Regions from separate parts of the Homo sapiens genome. Here region 1 is reported to be linked to region 2. The links are microRNA targets in miRTarBase. Many come from high-throughput screens and were not tested one by one. Region 2 holds a microRNA gene; the other region holds the end of a gene's coding sequence.

Evidence for each region. Region 2 holds the annotated microRNA hsa-miR-2355-5p (AUCCCCAGAUACAAUGGACAA, at 2,286-2,306, shown strand). A microRNA usually pairs through its seed, bases 2 to 8, with sites in the 3' UTR of a target mRNA and lowers its output. Matches are read on the target gene's strand: a 7mer-m8 pairs with bases 2 to 8, a 7mer-A1 pairs with bases 2 to 7 and ends in A, and an 8mer does both.
Region 1: miRTarBase lists MFSD12 as a target of hsa-miR-2355-5p. Seed matches in the 3' UTR shown: 7mer-A1 at 2,435-2,441.

The regions. Positions count from the first base shown.
Region 1 is chr19:3,542,202-3,545,201 of GRCh38, forward strand. MFSD12 (major facilitator superfamily domain containing 12) reads right to left here. Exons shown (of 10, transcript NM_174983.5): 9 at 2,608-2,738; 10 at 1,998-2,531. The coding sequence ends at 2,509. TEKTIP1 (tektin bundle interacting protein 1) reads left to right here. Exons shown (of 4, transcript NM_001135580.2): 2 at 1,034-1,272; 3 at 1,354-1,479; 4 at 1,628-1,829. The coding sequence ends at 1,809. Among named protein-coding and RNA genes, the nearest start is that of TEKTIP1, 4.5 kb to the left of the region's middle. RefSeq lists an enhancer at 712-856 and a cis regulatory region at 784.
Region 2 is chr2:207,109,200-207,112,348 of GRCh38, reverse strand. It overlaps MIR2355 (microRNA 2355), which reads left to right and starts at 2,276; the gene lies at 2,276-2,362. All of the region lies in intron 2 of KLF7 (KLF transcription factor 7), which reads left to right.

The DNA of each region.
Region 1 (3,000 bases), not on the chromosome of region 2:
TTCTAGTGGAAAAGCCGAGTCTATGTGGGGTCCCTCAAACAGGCTCTGTAACTGACCAGGCTACTCCCATGTTCTGTGGGCACCTGGGAGTCTAGTCAGGATTTAAGCAGAGTTCCTGCCATGAGAGCTGGAACCGGGCTTTCCGTGCAGGGCAGATGAGATTGTTTTGAACCCTGCTAGACTGTCTTGGGGCCAGCAACCTTGTTTTCTGGGATGACTTCCTTGGGACATATTCCCAAGAGCAAGGTCAAAGCATAAAACATCTTTGAGTCTCTTGTCTTTTTGTTTTTGAGACAGAGTCTCACTCTGTTGCCCAGGCTGGAGTGCAAGGGCACGATCTCAGCTTACTGCAAACTCCACTTCCTGGGTTCAAGCGATTCTCCTGCCTCAGCCTCCTGAGTAGCTGGGATTACAGGTGCCCCCCGCCCCCACACCATGCCTGGCTTAATTTTCGTATTTTTAGTAGAGATGGGGTTTTACCATGCTGGCCAGGCTGGTCTCGAACTCCTGACCTCAAGTGATCCACCTGCCTCAGCCTCCCAAAGTGCTGGGTTTACAAGCGTGAGCCACACACCTGGCCTAGTGGGTCCCCCAGTCTTCCCTGGGCCATGGCTTAGTGCCAGCCCCAGACCACTTCTTCCTGGTGCACCTCCAGGCCAGGGGGGCTTCCCAGAGGAAGGGACTTGTGGGTCTTGGAGGCTGGACAAGGACTGTAGGAATCCAGGAGTAGCCAGGGCCCTTGTCCTCTCCCCTCCCTCTTCTCCAGGCAAGAAAAGCTGAGAACAGAAAGGTTTAGTGCTGACTTGGGTGCTTGGGGTGCGATGTGTGGGGAGAGGGGGAGTCAGCCTCTCTCCTCAAGCACCCACTCTGGGGTGAGGGGTACAGGGCTGAAGGACAGACTCCAAGTGGCGAGGGAGGGAGACCCCACGCCGTGGGCCAGGCCTCTACATCATCCACCCTGGCAGACATCGCAAAGGGGTCAAAGCACTCGCTGTAGACATGGGCTCAGTCTCTGCCCCCTGCCCACCCTCAGCGATGACTACCTGTCCCTGGAGGGTTCCCGCTGGCCACCAGCCATCAGGCAGGCCACACGCTGGAAGTACACGCCCATGGGACGGGACGCAGCCGGCCAGCTGTGGTACACAGGCCTGACCAACTCGGACGCCTGGGAAGCCTGGTACAACCTGCCACGGGCCCCGGCCAGCCCCTTCCGCGAGGCCTACAACCGCTGGCACAGCTGCTACCAACACCGTGAGTGCAGCATGCCATCGGGTGAGTGCCCCCCCCCCCGCCCTGGGCAGCGGGCCTGCCAGAGGGGGACAGGAATGACCGCCAGCCCCCGCCCCACCGCAGCCTACACCCAGCACCTGCGGGAGACCGCCTGGCATGACCCCATCGTCCCTGCCCAGTACCAGGCCCCCAGCACCCGGTGGGGGAGCGCGCTGTGGAAAGACAGGCCAATCCGGGGCAAGGAATACGGTGAGGCTAGGTGCAGGGTGGGTCCTTGGGAGGCCAGGGGGACAAGGCCACCTAGGCCAGGGTGAAACTGCCCGGGGCGATCCAGGAGCCCCTTGCTGGCCAACGGCGAGGAGGTGGGGGCACATGGTGACCCGAGTCCCACCTACAGTGCTCAACAGGAACCGGTACGGGGTGGAGCCACTGTGGAGGGCATCAGACTACGTGCCCTCCCTGTCGGCACCCCAGCGCCCGCCCGGCACCACCCAGAACTACCGGGAGTGGGTCCTGGAACCATACTGCCCCTCCACCTGCCAGCGGTCCCCGCCTTCCCTCACACCCACTCCCCGATAAAGGCATGCTACCAGGATGCACCCACTGTCTCTGCACCCAGATGAGGGGGCACTAACCTAGTCCCAGGGGACCAGAGGCTCGGGACAGAGGCAGACACTGGGCTCGCTGGCCGCCCACAACCAGGGCAGGGCTGAGATGCCCAGGCTACCCCTGCCCAGAGCCCCCCCGCAGGCAGACAGGAGCCAGGCTGCCGTCATCTCTTTATTTGCTGCCAGCAGAGTCCACCAAGCCTGCCGGGCAGCCCTGCTGCCCACCACGGTGGGGTCCAGGCCCAGCCCACCACCCCGTGGCTGTCTCCTCCAGGCTCCAGCCGTCCTGAGGGGGCCCTGGCAGTGTCTGGAGACCCCCAGGCTGGAGGTGAGGGGTGAACTGGACTGAGCTCAGGGTTAGGGTTCCCCCAGACCCTTCTGGGATTCCTACTTCCTGTTCCCTGCCGAGAGGGGCACCCCAAATCCTCCAGAGGGCTGGGATGGATTAGAGTTGAGAATGGGACACCCTCAAAACCCAGGGGGTCCTTGCAAGTCCCTGGCGGGCATCCCTGCTGCCCTCACCCGACCCCACCCCCGGGAGCTGGGTGAGGATGGAGGGTGGGGGTCCAGAGAAGAGTGAGGGGCAGTGGGGGCTTTTCCCCAAGGCCCTGGGGGGCATCCTCGTGCGTCCCCACAGTTCCCTTGCACAGGTGCAGGAGGCTGTCAGGAGTCAGGGCCGGGCATCACGGTCCCCTGCAAGGGAGGGGTGGAAATGGCATTAGAGAGTGTGGGTCAGTGTCTGGGGAGGGAGGGGTGGGCCAGGACTCACAGCGTCGCAGGCGGGTCGGCCACAGCAGGAGGCTACAGAGACACAGGGCAGCGGCCACGCCCACGCCGCCCGTCACAGCCACCATCGCCCAGTGGTAAAAGCTCACGCAGGCCCTGCAGCAGAGCTCTGAGCTGTGGGAGGAGGCGGGGGATGAGTAGGCACCGCGGGTACCACCCCCCCGCCACCCAAGCTGAACCTGTGCCTCCCCTCACCCCCGACAGCGGCTCCGTCCTGTCCAATCCAGGAGCTGGGGGCCCTGCCACTCCCTCCCTCCTGTCCCACACCCAACAGCTCGGCCAGTCCTGTGGGCCCTGCTTCCAGCATCCATGCCAAATCCACCATGTCTCCCCTTCCCTGTCTCCTCATGGTCCAGCCCCAGCATGGCCCGCCTGC
Region 2 (3,149 bases):
CTAGGTGATCGCGAGAAGATCGCAGTGTTAACACCTGTCTAAAGGAAACCAGCTAGCCGTTAGTAGTGCTCAAATTGCAAAAGAAAATCTTGTTATCAAAGAAAAACTTACAGAGAGGGTATAATATTATTTCTGCTATCTCTGTTAAAAGGACCAGTTGTTAATCACTCAAAAGCATTTGCCCATTAAATGAATTAGCCATTTACTTATGAAGAACCATCAGAAGTCAGAATATCCCTTTGTCACTTGACAAGTTTTATATTCTGACTTTGAGAGGGAGGTGGTTTTGTTTGAGTATTTCATCTTTGTTGACAGCAGACTGTCAGAATAACAACTTTGCAAGTATATTATGCATAGTCCCTATTTGACTTAAGCAGGATACAGATTGAAAAGTTCAAAGAAGTCTGGGGAGTTTGTCTTACCCAGCCCTCTTCACCGGTTGATTGGATGTGGTTATACGGCCTCACTGTGGTCTGGCAAGACCCTGGAAACCCAGGGCAGGGGTCTTTGAAGACTGAAGGTGGTCATGGTTATTAACCCAGTGATAAATGAACATCAGTGCATACTTCCGAGGCTTCCTCTCATCGTACTCTTCTTGGAGAGCAGATCTTTTTTCTTTTGATGTCTCCATGTTTAAAACAATAGTGAGAGTGCAGGCATACAAGCAAGCATGCTTTGGGGAATGAAGAAAGGAGGTATTCCATGGAGTTGCTTCAACCCCTGGTTCTCCTCAGTCCTGAAAACCTGCTTTGCTAATTCTCATGGCCACACAAAACTGCTAGCTTTGACATCAAGCAAACCGGTTGACAGAATTGGAAAGGACGAATCTGATGGCTGCTAGTCCCCCAGCAGGGCTGCTGCTAAGCCACAATATGCTTTTGTGTGAATTAGAAAAAGTACCCTTTGCGTGGGGCAGCTTCCCTGTGCTTGAGGAGCAGAGCCAGATTCAGCCCCTCTCAGCCTGTAGCTGGACACCCTGTGCTCAAAACCTTATGTGGCCTGTGCGCACTGGGAGAGCATTCCACACAGATGGGCCTTCCCTGAACTTTTAAGAACTTCTGAGGCTAAGAAGGGCATAGCAGGAATGGGAGAGTCACACAATGGTTCAAGGAGGGTATCGGGACATCCTGTCAATGTCTGAAGAGGCCATTATGTGTGACAGCAAATCTTTTGGTCCAGCCACTCTCCCAAAATGTGAGATCATTAGTTGCCTAATGTGGTGGTTCTCAACCAGGGGAGATTTTTTCCCTCAGGGAACATTTAGCAATGTCTGGAGACATTTTTCATGGTCATATGTGGGGTTGGGGGTATGCTACTGGCATCTGGGAAGTAGAGGGCAGGGATACTGCTAAGTATCCTACAATGCCCAGGACAACTTCCACAGCAAAGGATCATGTGGGCCCAAGGGTCAACAGTGCCAAGGTTGAGAAACCCTGGCCTAATGCAACCTTAGCTGTCTTCTTCTCTGTAGGTTGCTCTGATCCACTTGCAAAACGTTTCCTAATCCTTTTAAGATGACCTACCCACCAGGTCTTGCCTTCTTCCCTTTTATGATCTTTAACAATATTGACTAAATGGAAATATTGCATTATTTATTATTTCTGTCAGGATTTAGATGATGTGCCGCTTTTCCCCTTATGGTAAGAAAGAAATCTCCCTACCTCCACTAAATGCTTAACCTTCTAGATTGAAGATTCGTGATTGTGACTCTTCCTGAGCCTCATGCCCTCCCCTTTTGCAGAAGGCTCCTGACCTGTAATAATTTGAGATTTTGCTGAGGCAGAGGTCTGATCACATCAGCTGCCAGGCTGGTACGTGGGAGGGAGGTGCTTTGCCAGGAAATGGGCCTAGCTGACCACGCACTGAAGAGCCACACCATCATATGGTATTGTCATTCTCCCCCTGGGTACAGTGGCCTTGCTGAAATGTAACAGTTGCTTCCTCGTTACCAAAAAGAAGATTAACTGTTAGTGAAGAAATAAGAGTGACGTGCTTTCCGTGGGAAAATAAAACTTTTATTGGTAAAACTGTATATTGCGCTGGCATTTGCTGCCTCAGTACATTTCCTACTATTCACTGTTCTGGTTCGCACCAGCACCATGAGGAGCATACTGGAAGCTTTCTGAGTTCTTAGGGAGAAAGGTGCTATTTCAGGTAAAAGGATTTAAATTGCCTTATCTAATGGACACATACTTTATGTCTGCATTTTGTCAGGAGCTGTGAATTATGCATTGGCCCTTTCAGCTACATTCACGTGCATAGAAAATAACATTGTCAGACGTGTCATCCCCAGATACAATGGACAATATGCTATTATAATCGTATGGCATTGTCCTTGCTGTTTGGAGATAATACTGCTGACTTTATTCCTCTCATACATGTGAATGTGGCTGTAGGGAGCACGTGACATCTGTGGCTTTTACATGTATTAGCTTATCCCTTGCCACTTGAAGAGATTGCCATTAGTGAGCTGGCCTTGTGGGGTCATGCTAAGTGCCATGTTTTGGATCACAGTTGTTATCGGACCTTAGTTTTAGATCCAGTAGGGAATTAGTAATATTATCTTGATGGCCTGAAGATGCAGTGGGTTACTTAGTCAGCTTCCCAGAGCAGATGTGCTAAAGAAAGGGTAAGCTGAGGCGTTCCTACTCAGATCAGCTTTGGGAGTAAGAAGGCAATTGGGTACCAAGCCTGGGAATGGCTGCTTCTATGTTAGTGCATTACCCAAGTAAGCAATAATAATATCACTTGTATTGATCTTTACAGTTGCCAAGTGTTTCACATACATCCTTCCATTTAACCTTCACTTACCGATGAGGTAAGTCTTCTCATTATACCCATTGTACAAATAAGGGAACTGAGGCTGAAAGAATCATTTTTCAAAGATTTCACTGCTGAACCATCACAGAGCCTGCCCTACTCTGTTTTTCCTTTAGAGATCAGTTATTTCTTTTGGGGGCCTAAGTTGAAACAATATAAATGAATTCAGTTTTGTTTATGGTTCAGAAAAATAAATGGCTATTTGTTGTTATTTTACTTGTTCAGTATAACTACTAATTCAGAATAGCTAAGAAAACTGAGTGATTATCTTGTATATTCCTACATTCTGTCTATTTTGGTTGAACTTAAGAATCCTTGATCTTAGTTGG